4 linked regions of the Homo sapiens genome follow. The protein of the gene in region 2 interacts with the protein of the main gene of each other region in a pairwise test. Each region holds a gene or a part of one and is shown on either strand. Other genes may lie near its edges.

Region 1 (3,490 bases), on a different chromosome or scaffold from region 2:
TGCCTGCCCAGTCTTCCAGTGCCCCAGGTGAAGCCCCCTTCCTCCCAGCATCCTCAAAGCCTAGAGCCGTCCCTGGAAGACAGAGCCTGCCCAGGCCCCGCTGTCCCTGACCGATGACAGATACAGGTGGGGTTTCTCAGTTCCGTTTCCTGCTGCCTCCTGGGCACTGCTCCCAGGGGTGTGTCATGGTGTGGAGTCAGCCTAGCCCTGACTGTGGGTTTGTGTGCTGCCCAGCTTAGTGGCCCAGAGCGGGGGTGCCTGGACTAGAATCTAGCTACCCCCTAACCAGCTGTGTGACCTTAACAAGTCAGGCTGTGACCGCATGTCTCTGCCTCAGTTTCCTCACCCGTAATCTGGGGGAACTGCAGTGCCCCCTAGGATCATTGTGGGAAATGGATGAGTGAGAGACACAGAAAGCCAGTCCTGAGCCTGCCCAGGATATAAAATCCCTTGTTGATGCCAATGTGGATGGAAATGTTGCACATTTATGAAAGAGTTTATGAAAGTGCTCCCCAGGAATCAAAATAAAACCAGCTTCATTTGTGAAATAAAGTAAGTGGGGCCTGAGCGCAGCTGTCCTTGAAAGACAACCCACAACGCTGGTTGTGCATCTTCAGTCCGGAGTTTATTGAGCGTGAGACCAGGCCTGACTCCTGCAGGGGCCAGGTTTTTGCGGGGACTCCATGCCTGTGGAGGCCCGACCGAGTGCAGCCTGGCGGGGTGGGCGGGCACCAGGCTGGACACCATTCAGTCCTCCTGATAGGGAACGTGGAAGCCCAGCGTGCTCCCCAGGGGGAAGTGGGCAAAGAAGGTTCGGGCCATGTCCTCGATCTGGGGGTAGGCCCCCAGGGCCTGGAAGTGCTGCACATAGTTCCAGAAGTCAGAGGTGGAGAAAGGCCAGTAGGGCATGGCCGGCAGCTCCGCGTAAGGGTCTGAAAGACACAAGACACCTGCCTTGGGGGCTGTCCCCATGGTCCTGCCTGGAGACACCATCCTCAGAGGTCTCAAGGCAAGTGGATGGTTCCCAGCTCTACCTACAGTGATACAACCTTCCCAGAGTGGGGGCCTGAGCCCATCCCCTCTCAGATCCTTGGGGATATCTGGTCGGGGAGACAGAGGAAGAAGAAGAAGGGGAAGAGAGGGAGGGAAGCCCTGTCCTGTTTGAGGAAGGAGTTGTGTGGGGAGGGTGTGGGGCACCAGCAGCCACCTGCTGGGATTTCAGAACAGAGCACAGACACCCCACTCCGCTACCCCCCGTATAACCTGTCCTAAAGCTTGGGCAAGAGCAGCCCTGAAGATACTGGACTGAGCTAGGGCTCAGAGTTGGGAGGGCCTGGGGGCTGGAACCCAGGTCTGATAGTGGGAATGTCAGGGGTCATGGGGCCCTGGCTCCCCCTGCCCAGTGTGTTCCCTGGTGGCTGGAGGGCAGGGTCCCAGCTGGAAGGAGCTCATAGACCCTCTGCTTGCACAGCTCCAAGCTGGCTCTCAAGGGCCATGTTTTCCATGCTTGGGCCTGAGCTGAGCCAGGGCCCCTGATGCGTCTGCTTGGGATAAGAAGCTGCTGCTCTCCCCAGCAGTTTCTCCCCGCTGCATACCAGTTACTTATGCAAATGAAAGGAAAGAAATTGGAGAACGGTACCTCCTTCCTCCTGCACAGGCTTGGCCCCTGCAAAGGAAGAGAAGAGCTGTCACCCAGGAGGACCACCCAGGTGCCGGTTGGGCCCACCCGACACCAGCTGCAGGGCTCTAAGGTTTCCTAGCAGCCTGGGGATGCATGCGGGAGGGGAGAGAACAGGAGGGCTGTCGGGGGTCCTGGTGGCTGCCTCCCTCCAGAGCGGCCCCTCACCTGCAAGAGGCCCCAGTAGGAGGCAGAGGGCCAGCCCCGGCACCATGCAGGCCTGCATCTTCCCGGTGCTTCCTGATCTGCGACTCAGGCCCACCTGCAGCAGGATGAACCCAGGAAGGGCGAGACCACCCATCCGTCAGGGCCGGCTTCCTCTACCAGTCCCAGTGTGGGCAGCCCTGGGGAAAATGGCATGGATTTAAAAAAAAAATTCTTACTGTTTTCCTAGCAATTTCCATTTCAGTGGTTTCAAACCACTATTTGGAGGTGAAATCCCTGCCTCAATTGGCCTTAATTCCCATGACTTAAGAAATTGCACCCCCCTCCACTCTGCCTGGCCTCTCCAGAGCTTACCTTGTCTCTGCTCAGCCAGCCGTGCTGCCTGGATGGGCTCTGCTGCCAGCTCAAGAGTCCTCTTTATAGAAGGGCTGCAGATGAGGAAGGACACGTCACCTGCCTGAACAGTCAAACTGAATATTTCATCCCCACCGGAGGACTGTGGGCTCCTGTCGCCCTGCTGGCAGGCACAATCAGAGTGTCAATTTCTGGGAATCTGATCCAAAGTTCAAACTGAGAGAAAAACATCTTGGCTCGGCCATTTCTGAAATTGTTAGGACTGAATTCAGCATTGGTACTTGAAACAAACCCAGTTTACTCTCCGCAAGGAGCGATCCTACGTCCAATACCGGGGCTGGCTGAGATTTCCTCCCTCGTGAGGAGGAGCTGAATAATTCCAGCGCTGCTTCCACTTAAACCAGCAGGCAGGAGGAGCCCCCGTCAGCGGGACCTGCCTGCAGGACGTCCACTGAGCAGAGCCCCAGCAGAAAGTGTGGGGTCAAGATGGACTTCCATCTCCAGGTGGGAGCTTCCCTGCGATCCAAAGTGTCAGTCTGTAGGTGGGCAGGAGGCTGTCCCCACCCTGGGACACCAGCAGCCAGCACCAAGGGTCTCTGTGGGCAGGGCCATTCTGACTACACAGCTGCCCCACTGACCACATCGGTTCCTATGCTGACCTGTCTTTCCAGTACATAGAGCCTCCTCCTGGTCCTGCTCCTTGGGGTCCCGCCACCCCACTGAATCAGGGGCCGAATTTGCTGTGGCGGTCTCCCCTGTCATTCCTGGTCACCCTGGGGGCTGTTTAAGGACTCTGGGAAGCTCCTCACCCATGTGTCCCATGGTTCTGGAGTTCATCACAGTCTGCTCACATGTCCCCATCCAAATGATTAAGGGCTCATTTTTCCCCACACAATGCCATACATTTAACCAAAGATACCCAGAGAGGTGGTTAATTTAATTCAGATGGTAAGGCAGCCATCCACGGATTAGATTTTGGGTTTCCTTTTCAGAAATCTGGAGCCTGTGGCTACAGGAGGCAATGGATTCTTTCAGGGCAGTTGTATTCGGGGTCACCAAGAGCACCCAGGTCAATGATTCACTAGGAAGATGCCCTAGGAGGACTCGTGGGACTCAGCATCCTCTCGAGGACCCCACGGGATGCTCTCCATTCCCCAGCACCACGTTGTGGTGACACCTGTGGAATCTCCCCATGAGGGGAGCCCTTCAGAACCTCAGAGCCCAGGGCTGGTCGTGCAGCCCCCTCTGACTCGTGCATGTGCAGATCTCCGACCCCCAGGAGGAAGCAGGTGC
Region 2 (3,232 bases):
AAATAAATTTTATTGTGTTTAAAAGTATACCTGTTATGGGATACACATAAATAGAAGGTTACTAGAGTGAAGCAAATTAATGTATCCATCACTCACATTTGAATTAAAAATGCATTTTAGGGACACTTTGTATGTTTTTTGTAAATTGCTCATTTTCCTCCATTTTTCTATCAGGAGTTTGGTGCTTTGTCCTTCAATGTTTAAGAATTGGCCTCATAATTTTGTAAAACTAATTAATACTAATATATAGACTGGCACTTAGTTTTTGGCCAGGCATGGTGGCTCACACCTGTAACCCCAGCACTTTGGGAGGCTGAGGTGGGCAGATGACCTAAGGTCAGGAGTCTGAGACCAGCCTGGCCAACATGGCAAAACCCCGTCTCTACTAAAAATACAAAGTAGCCGGGCGTGGTGGCAGGGACCTCTAATCCCAGCTACTTGGGAGGCTGAGGCATGAGAATCACTTGAACCTGGGGAGGTGGAGGTCACAGTGAGCCAAGACGGCGCCACTGCACTCCAGCCTGGGGGATTAGAGTGAGACCTGTCTCCCAAAATAAACAAAATAAATAAAATGAAGTTCTCTGTCGTGACTTCAACCAAAAAATAATAATACCTAGTACATCCGAATGCAGTATGAGATGATCTACTGTGGCGTTAGGCTTTATTTTAATGTAAACATAAAGCACACATCTAAACTCTGAGAAATACAGGTAGATATGCTGGTTTACCTATTTGTATAGTCAATTCCTGTTTATTATGAAACAGCGTTATCTCTTTGTGTATCTTTTAGCTCATATAGTCAAACCCCATGCTGCCAACCTCAGGACTAAATAAACTGAGATGGGGCTTTACTATCTATGACAGAATAAATGTTTAAGGTGTTGCAAAGCCAGACATGAATCAGTTTTTCTGAGTGATTGGAAACATTTTGGTACGATTTATATCCTAACTCTTTTTGACCATTAGCAGATAAATAGGGACTATTTTCCTGCTAACAGGCTATTTTAAAATATCATTAAAAACAAATTGTATGCAGTTGTATATCCTGTTTCAGTTGTATATCTAATTATATGCCACATTCTTTCAAAAAATTGGCTTTTCATTCAGTTGTCTTAAATTTGCAAGACGAATGGTAACAATGTCTTTATGAAGATCACAATTTTGAATGTTACATGTTGAGTGAGACATTGAAAGCTGTGTTTATTTTTTTCAGTGACTGATTTTCTATGTCCATAGATGCTATAAAAACTGATCGAAGATCAACTAAAAATTCAATTACAATATTACAAATTCAACTGCAGGTACCAATATTACATTATTTGACAGGGATAATAAAATGAGCAAAGACTGGAAATCACAGACAATAACATTGCTTTCTCAATTAACAGAAAGGATTCATAACATATTCCTTAACGGTAGATGTGATTTGTAGAGAATGTGGAAAAGAACTATTGAGAAGTCCACCTGCTGCCCCAGACTGAGGCACATTAGGGTGGTTGTGGGAGGAGTTATATTTGAGGGTTCCATTTTTCCTTAGGGTATTAAAATGCATGTCCTGGTTTGTTGTTTATTTGCCATTAAGTTCTCTTCTTCAAATAAAAGAATTAGGGGAGAAAGTATGGAAAAGAAACGCACTAAACTTCTGGAAAAATTAACAGAAGCTTAAAAATAACAATTTCCAAAGAATCATTCTCTTCTTGGTATAGAGCAGTACCTGTCCTAGTTGCCTTAACTTTTTGTACTCACTGGTAAAGACAGTGATTAGTAAGACCAGTGAATTTGATACAGCCACTTGAAAGAAAAAAAGGCTGTACTACAAATACCCATGAAAACAGATTTTCTCTCACCCTTCCCTCTGCCCTCAAGGAGACAGTTAAAACAAAACTATGACAGCATTTGGTGATTTCCCACAAGAGTACTGTCAAACCTTTGAGAGAGTACTGCTGAATCTTCAGGGAAGACCTGTAGAAAGTTGAAGGCCATGAGCGAAATGAAAGTAGTTAGTTTCAGAGTTAGAACTTCTTTATGCTTTCTTTCAGGCATAAGTGCTTTTGTGCTAGTTCAGGAGAAAACACTTGCTTACACTGCTTACACCATCAACAAAAATAATTTCAGTATGGTGAGATTTGTCGCATTTTAGCAAAATTTTTAAAAAGGGTTGAGTGTTAACCATTCTGACCCTTTTAAAAAACATGCTTAAACCCATGTAAAAGCTGTAAGTGGACTAAAAATACATTAAAAAAGAGGTGGTCATAATAAAAAAAAAGAACACTTTTATACATAGGATTTTATTTTGCACTGCTGTAACAATTTCATTATAGACCAAGGGAGAAAAAGAAAAAAAGGATAAAACCACCACACTGAGTAAATTACTAAAGCTTTTCTACTTTGTAACAGGATTTTCCATCTGATAGATTTATTGTCATATCCCCTTCAAAACAGACAAGATGCTCACCATATTTTAAAGATTATAGAGGTTGCCACTGAAAGAAAAATTTTACACAGTCACTGTACATCAAGGTTGAAAAACTGTCCTGCATGAAAAATATACTTAGAAATCATGTGAATAAAAGAAAAAAGAAAACATTATTGTGTTTAAGGAAAGATTAAAGTCCTCATAATGTGCCATCTAAATGTGGATACTCATTCTTCTTGGAGTCGCTAAGATGTAGAAATTTCTTGCTTCTGCCCTTTTCACTCATTATACTGTGTTTTTTCCCAACAGTATTCATTAAGGCAAACAAATCCCTTTCTGAAGAGGTCTTAAGGAAATTGTGGACAAAGCAAACTTTTGGCATTAAAACAGGTTAACATATACAAAGCCTTTGTAATATACATTAAGCATATTTTTCTTGGACTAGTGACAAGAAAAGATGAACATGCTTGTTAACAATGTCAAAAAGTTTAAAATTCAGTGTCCAAGCAATTCCTAACAATGCTTCTGTAGCTTTAAGCTCTAAACAGTATAGAATTTATGCAAATGCATTAAAGAATTCAAGCTTGGCAAATTACACCCAAGCAGGTTATTAAACTATATATACAGAAAGTAAATGATAAATACAGAATTAAAAGAGTCCTTCTGTTTCCTTATAGCCGTGAAAATTGACAAAGTTTCTGAGGACAGTTCTATAATATTAAACATTAGGTAACCACAGATGTTGGGAAACCTAACTACACAAACCGATTTAAAATACTCAAGATGACTTTGTAGTGTTTAATACAATTCAGTTCG
Region 3 (3,653 bases), on a different chromosome or scaffold from region 2:
TGTCCACAGTGCACAACAAGGCACAGAATGAGTTGTCTTACCTAACTCTTATCACTCCCATTATATGGATGAGGTTCAGAGGTCAGCAGCTTGCCCAAAGTGCTCAACTAGTGGGTAGCAGGGCTGAGCTGTGAGCCTAGGCAGTTTGATGCCAGAGTCCTAGCATCTAAGTCATCTCACTCCTCATGCAAGTCTGTGGGGACACGGGAGGGTCTCTGAGACTTGGTCCTTGGAAAGATGCTGGCATTGTCCTCTCTGGCTCCACTGGGAGCCCTGGCAGCCCCAGCTGGGCCCTGAGTGATGCTGCCAGTGTCTACCTACATCTGCTCAGTCCTCCTCACTGTATGGAACTCTGTGCCAGTGATTGGACAGGTGGCAGTCCCATGAGGCCAGCACACAAGGACCATGATGACTGTGAAGGCCACCTCAGAAAGGTCGTGTGCCTTTTCCCAGGCCTTGTGAGTCTCAGACAAGTGCAGCTGGGCAGAGCCCAGAGCACCACGGGCAGGAAATCAGACTGGTGAGTGGGCGAGTGGAAACTGTATCTGGGCTGGGCCAGCTAGGAGAGGCTTCCTGGAAGAGGTTGCCAGTTTAATTCAGACCTCTGGTTTGAGAAGGATGTGGATGACAGAGGAAGGCACAGGGTGTATGTGTGTGCCTGTGTGTGTGTGCACTCACGTGTGTGTGTGTGTGTGTGTATGTGTATGTGTGTGTGCATGTGTGTGACAATATGCCTGGTTTAGACATTCAGCACCTGCTGTGGAGTACCAGTTTCCCACTCGCAGACCTGTGTTCTGGCAGGATGTGGTTGACCTCAGCAGGGCCGGTGTCAAAGTCCTGACAAAGACTGGGAAGCTGAGGGAGGACCAGAGGAATCTGTGGAGGAAGAGGCGTTTGTGTAGGGCCTTGAAGGGTAGAGCACCATTGCTGAGGGTGCTGCAGGGACTCCTGGGTCACTTGGGCTGTTGTTCAGACTATATGGGAAGGACTCAGTTTTCATTACAACAGAGGTCTGTTGTATCTCTTCTGAGCTTCACACCTGGGGAAGTGGAGTTAGATCCCTCATTTTCCTCTGCTGGGGACATCATCATGGAAGATCTCTGGGTGGAGGCAGTAGTTGGAACATCTGGCTCTGTAAGCCCGCAACCTCCCTTGGCTCCAGGCTGCCATGTCTAATGGTGAAGGCCCATGGGCAAGAGCTGAGGACATCCCTAGGTGAGAGGCATTCCAAGCATACCTGTGCCATGAGAGTGTGCACAAAGCGCTTCCTGGAGAGCTGGCTCTGCTGCTCTCAGGACAGTGAGACCATGGCTCCTGTGAGCACTGGTGTTTTCCCTGGAGAACATTAGTTCTACTGCTCTCCCTCCATCTATTGGACATCTTGTGTGGTCCCAGATGAAAGGCCCCATCTTGGGGTTGAGAGAGGAACAGTGCTCTCGGCTTAAAATGCTTTCTGTGACATTCTCCCCAAGTGACTTTGGACTAAAGGCAGTTTCATAATCTTTTGCAAAACCATCATCTTTGTGGTGCAGTTGAACCCTGGGTTTGAATATGTGGTGGGGAGTAGGATCCAGTCTCGGTGACTGTTACTATCCCTGCATTCATGCTATGAGACAACATAGGCCGGCAGACACTCAGAAGGCAGGGCTCTCATTTGGGGTGGCCTGGGTGCATTTGCTGGTGAAACATTATTGGTTTTTATGAGGACTCACTTGGGTGCGCCCTGCACCTGGGGAACCCAGCCCCTTGAGGGACAGGAAAGAATGGCGTGAAGGGAGCTCTGGGTCCTGGGCTCCTCCCCACCCTCCTGCCCGTTTGGAACTAAGTGGATTAGGCCCTGTGCAATTGTGATTAAAATCCTGCTGTGTGGGAACCGTGGAGGTTTGGCTTAGAGCAGGAACACGAGGCTCCCGTTTGGGGAACAAGGAGCCTCAGGAGGCCCTTTCAGCACTAGACAGGCCAGAGATGCTGAAAAGATTGCTTTTGTTTTTGAGGCGGGTTTGGGATTAGGGTTGCCTTTTTCTTTAGACTAGGGCTTTGTCTTTGCTGCCTTCTCCTCATGGCACTAGCGATCTTTCTGTCCTCTGCCTCCTCGTCCCTCTCATTTCTCCTTTTCCACCTGTTTCTCCTGCTATCGCTCTGTCCCCGCTCTCCCGGGCCTTGCCAGTTTGCCTGTCTCGTGTGTTTCAGGCCTCATGGCCTCTTTTCTGCAGCCTGGCAGGCTGAGGGCAGGCGGAGGACAGAGCAGGGCCAGGTCAGGTGCTAAGGACTCATCCTGGTCAGCGGGCAGCTCACTCCCCCACCCCCACCCCAGGGGAGGGTGGGGGTGGGGAAGGAAGGAGGAGTGAGTGCTGTACCCATGCCACTCACAGTGTCCCCTCCTGCTGCCCGCCTTGACCAGGTGTCAGCAGCCTTGGCAGTCAGAACAGTGGACTCAGGAGTTCTTGGGCTGAGCTGTAACCTGAGGAGGTCCCCCGCCACCCCCCCATGGCTTGTGTGAAGTCAACTTCAGCTGCAGTCTCTGCTGTTGGGTCTCCTTTTACGGCCCAATGGTCTGAGACTTTTGCTTGGGACAATTGTGTGGGACTAGGCACAGTACGACCCCCAAGGGTTCCCTAGCCACAGTGAGGTATAGACAGGGCTGAGATCTGACCTGAGTCAGAGCCTTAGAGCCAGCCAGAGGAGCTGGTGGGAGTCTGGGAGGGCTCAAGGTATGAGGTGCAACCTACCGCCATTTTTACAGAGGGCAGAGCTGAGTGTGAGCTGCACCTGCACTAGCTGGTGTGAACACTCAAGACTCTCTAGCTGGCACCCTGCACCTGACCACCCTTGCCCTGCTAAGGCTCAGAGGCTACATTCAGGGGCCTGAGGGACCAGGACCTTGAGCTGCCACACTCATTTCCCCATTCTTAAGGGTTCAGCCTCCACAAGAGACCCATAGCTCATCCACAGATGCTCACCCAACATTAACAGCCCCCTTCTCAGGATGTGGTAGAAGGACTGGCAGGTGTTCTCCGTGCTTTCTGGCAGGCAGTGGCACAGGGGGCAGGGGGATGGCAATAAGGGCACCCACTTGCTGAGTGCCTCCTACATGTCAGGCACAAACACTGCAGAATCAGAATGGATTATCACGCCCATGCCATGGATGCAGAGACAGGTTCAGAAAGGCAGAGTAACTCACCCAGGGTCACGTAGTATGGACATGGCCCTGTGCTGGAACCCAGGCCTGGCTCTCAGCCATTCCTCTCTGCGTGTGTGCTCCTCTGGGGATCAGGAGCCACAGTCTGCTCATCAGCAAAATGAGAGCCTGGGCCGGGCGCAGTGGCTCATGCCTGTAATCCCAGCACTTTGGGAGGCTGACGCGGGTGGATCACCTGAAGTCAGGAGTTCGAGATCAGCGTGGTGAAACCCCGTCTCTACTAAAAATAGAAAAATTAGCTGGGTGAGGTGGCACATGCTTGTAATACCAGCTACTTGAGAGGCTGAGGCAGGAGAATCACTTGAACCCGGGAAATGGAGGTTGCAGTGAGCTGAGATTGCGCCATTGCACTCTAGCCTGGGAGTCAAGAGTAAAACTCCATCTCAAAAAAAAAAAAAAAAAAAAAATGAGGGCCTGGGTGCTCTGCTTGGCAAAGGCCTCCCTTTTGGCTGTG
Region 4 (3,653 bases), on a different chromosome or scaffold from region 2:
CCATTATGTCTCTCCTGTTAGAAGGACCTTCTCTTTCCTGCTTCAGTATTTGCTGTCTTTAGTTACCACATCGCAGCCAGGGTGGTCCTGTTGAAAGACAAGGTAGATCATGTCATCTCTGCTCAAACTGCATGATGGCTTTCCATCAAACTCAGGGTAAAGCAAACCCTTTGTTCTAGTACCACTCTGACTTATCTCCCATTATCTGCCCCAAGCTACTCTCCTTTTGCTACACTTGTCTAATTGTTGTTTCTTTGACATACCAACCTGCCTCTGTCTTCTGGGCTTCTCTCCATCTTCCTAGAACTCCTTTCTTTCTTCCATATGAATGTTTGGTGTATTCCTGACTTCCTTAATTTTCCACTTCTTAGTGAGGCCTTCCTTTGTCTCAAAAAAAAAAAAATGTCTTATTGTTGCCCAGGCTAGAGTGCAGTGACATGATCTTGGCTTACTGCAACCTCCTCCTCCAGGGTCCAAGCAATTCTTGTGCTTCAGCCTCCCAAGTAGCTGGAACTATAGGCATGCGCCTTGCCTGGCTAATTTTTGTATTTTTGGTAGAGATGGGGTTTTACCATGTTGGCCAGGCTGGTCTCGAACTCTTGACTTTAAAAAAGTATTAACAACCCTATTCTTCCCAACAGTGCCATCACCCTTAGCTTACTCTCTTTTTCTTTATAGCATATGTCACCATAAGACCTACTTTACAGAATTATCTGTCTTTATCCACAAGATTGTAAGATCCATGAAGGCAGGCACTTGGTCTGTTTTGTTTCATAACTGTATTCTCAAGTGTCCTGCGCATAGTAGGAACTAAAAGGAATTTTGAATGTTCAATGAATTTATAGACATTAAAGGAAAGGCAAGTGGAATTTTTATTTTTTGTTTTTGAGACAGGGTCTCACTCTGTCATCCATGCTGGAGTACAGCAAATGGAATTTTTAAAAGTCACCACCTATTTAGCCTAAAGTTTCCCCCTTTATTTCTTTCATTGCCTAACAACCTAGAAATGCTAACTGAGCCCTAACATAGAACTATAAAACTTCCTGTTTTACAAGTCTAGTCCAACCCTTCATTTCATTGATGTTGAAATAAAGTCCTAAGAGATGTTAGCTATTGTCTCTGAAGTTATAGCCAGTAAATTAGTGGTACAGTTAAGACCAGAATCCAGATCTCTTGAATCTCAGTTGCTTTTTTTTTCACTAGTTTGTGATAACCTTAATATGAGACCAAACTTAAAGAGTCAGTTCCCTATGGAAACAAAGCAGCAAAAACTAAATACATCAGTAAGCAGAAATTGAAATAGATAAGTAGATTGGTGATAGTCAAAGCAATGAAACCTGCTGATGATACAATTCAAACTTTTCCCCCCACTGGTCATTATAATATTTAAATTAGTTTAGTATGTTTATTGTGAAATAAGTAAACATTGAGGAATGTGTTTTTTTGTTTGTTTTTTAACCTCAGGTGCACATGAACTTGAACAGATGCAGCTGATTTTAGAATCTATTCCTGTTGTACATGAGGAAGATCGTCAGGAGCTTCTCAGCGTAATTCCAGTTTACATTAGAAATGACATGACTGAGCCACACAAACCTTTAACTCAGCTGCTTCCAGGAATTAGTCGAGAAGGTATTGTGACTCGAGAGTAACCCTCACGTTAATGCCTGTGTGTGAGGCAGAATCTGTGTAGGGAAGCTGGAGCTTTTTATCCTTAGATATGGGGCTTTCTCCAAAATAGTCTTTAGACACTTAAGGTGTACGTAAAACTTCAACTCTCATTTTCCCTTTTTTTGTCCTGTTACTTGGGCTACGATCTGTTTTTTTGGTTCCTCTGAATCACTTTCCAGAGCAAGTAGCAAGTATTTTGAATATAGGCACTGGGGACAAAATCATGATGGCATTTTTTCCCTCAGATATACTTGGAACTCCTGTAAATGCCTGGATAAAAAGAAAGCTGCTGTATTTAATTTCAGCCGGTTTTGCAGGCTTTTCAGTAGTTCCACATTCTTAATCAGTCTTTGAGTCTGTCTGCACAAATTCCATTGCTAGCTCCCTTGCTCGTAACCCTGTAGCCACTGTCACAACATCCCTGTTCATATCTAAATGAGTCCTCTGTGGGAACACTTTATTTTTATTTTTTATTGAAAAATAGAGACAGAGTCTTCCCTGGGCTGGTCTTGAACTCCTGAGCTCAAGCAGCCTTTCTGCCTCAGCCTCCCACAGTGGTAGTATTACAGGTGTAAGCCACCACACCTGGCCAAGGAGCACTTTTAAAATGCTGAACTAGTAATTCTGAATTGGGAGGTGGAGTGGGGAACAGGGTGGGTGTCTGCATACCCTCTCTAAGGTGTGACTCTGCTCAGCCAGGTGAAGACACTGTGTGCAGTGATAACCTGGATCCACTTCAGAGTAGTTGTCACTAATCAAGAGGACGGTGCTGTTGAAGCATTTGTAACCTTGCTGTATAATGCTATTTGAATCTTTTTCGTACCCTCATTAGGGTGGGGACCATGTTTTAATCTTTGAATTAAACTGAATATTTGGCCACTGACTGGGGTTTATTAACCATTGAGCAAAGATCCTTGGTGGTCACATGTGGCAGCACTGTGCTTGCAAGCAAGTGAATGCAGAGTGGATGGAGTTTCTGAGACTAAAGATTTATCAATTGTATGCTCCATACTACTTTCTTCTTAACAGTGGAGTTTTATTTTGGGACAGAGCACATTCTGAGGCAGTGGCAACTTGGTAAAAAGAATACATGTTCTCACCCCACATTCTTTATGATCTTTGAAGGAAAAAAGCAAACAGGATTAAGTACATCTGAGTGAACGTATAAGACTCCTAGGAGCCCTACTCTGGTTAATTTCCCTCTATACTTACCTCTCATCCTTTCTGTAGTATACCATATATTTCTCTAAGCATGGTTCAGCACCATTGTAGCATTCCTGTAGTCCTAGCTGTTCAGGAGGCTGAGGCAGGAAGATTCCTTGAGCCCAGGAGTTCAAGGCTACAATGAGCTATGATCATGCTATTGCACTCCAGCCTGGGCAACCGCAAAGATGCTGTGTCTTAAAATTATCTTTCTAAAGAAAAGAAAAGGGTTCTTTCTAGAGTACAGGTTGGCTTGAGAGAGAAAGGCCATCTTTCTCACTTAGAAGGCAAGGATAAGAGGATGTGTGAGTGACCATAGTGAAGAGGTAGGGATTGAGACAAATGTGAAGTGGGTTTATCTGTTGAGAATGATAAAGAAGACCGAGAGCATAAAGAGAAGGCCAGATAGCAAAGGTCACAATGAAATTGTTTAGTATGAATTTGTAATGAGCCAGATATGGGATATTGCAGCTAGTTTTCATCAGTTTTGTGTGGCCAGGGAGCAGAGAGAGTAGATGGTGGTGGTGATCCAGGGTTGAAGGTTGATATCATAAGGCATAGAAGTGTGTGGCTGGTGTAAATATAGCTTTCAGGCTGCGTGAGGAACTAAGGAAGGCCTACTAGACTATTTTATGGGAAGAACTGGATTTGTGGTTAACCAGAGTCCTAAGATGTGCAAGGTCAGTGTGTGAACTATGCTGGAGTGTGATGTGAAGCAGAGATCAAGAAATTAGTACAACAGAGATGTTTTACTGTTGTACTTCCCATCAGTGAAGGATGGG

What was found.
Region 1: the proteins of RAB2A (region 2) and OTOS interact in a two-hybrid assay, tested with the Homo sapiens proteins (one large-scale study listed by BioGRID).
Region 3: the proteins of RAB2A (region 2) and MAPKAPK3 interact in a two-hybrid assay, tested with the Homo sapiens proteins (one large-scale study listed by BioGRID and IntAct).
Region 4: the proteins of RAB2A (region 2) and MAPK6 interact in a two-hybrid assay, tested with the Homo sapiens proteins (one large-scale study listed by BioGRID and IntAct).

The regions. Positions count from the first base shown.
Region 1 is NC_000002.12:240,138,423-240,141,912, forward strand, and holds OTOS (otospiralin precursor), read right to left. Parts: upstream 2,237-3,490; 5' UTR 2,198-2,236; exon of another isoform or gene 2,083-2,197; coding exon of another isoform or gene 2,062-2,082; intron 2,023-2,061; 5' UTR 1,941-2,022; coding exon of another isoform or gene 1,905-1,940; coding exon 1,847-1,904; intron 1,667-1,846; coding exon 1,640-1,666; intron 933-1,639; coding exon 748-932; 3' UTR 604-747; downstream 1-603. UniProt on the Homo sapiens protein: May be essential for the survival of the neurosensory epithelium of the inner ear.
Region 2 is NC_000008.11:60,621,040-60,624,271, reverse strand, and holds the end of RAB2A (ras-related protein Rab-2A), read right to left. Parts: 3' UTR 628-3,232; downstream 1-627.
Region 3 is NC_000003.12:50,623,601-50,627,253, forward strand, and holds part of MAPKAPK3 (MAP kinase-activated protein kinase 3), read left to right. Parts: intron 1-3,653. UniProt on the Homo sapiens protein: Stress-activated serine/threonine-protein kinase involved in cytokines production, endocytosis, cell migration, chromatin remodeling and transcriptional regulation.
Region 4 is NC_000015.10:52,057,169-52,060,821, forward strand, and holds part of MAPK6 (mitogen-activated protein kinase 6), read left to right. Parts: exon of another isoform or gene 1-87; intron 88-1,464; coding exon 1,465-1,629; intron 1,630-3,653. UniProt on the Homo sapiens protein: Atypical MAPK protein. Phosphorylates microtubule-associated protein 2 (MAP2) and MAPKAPK5.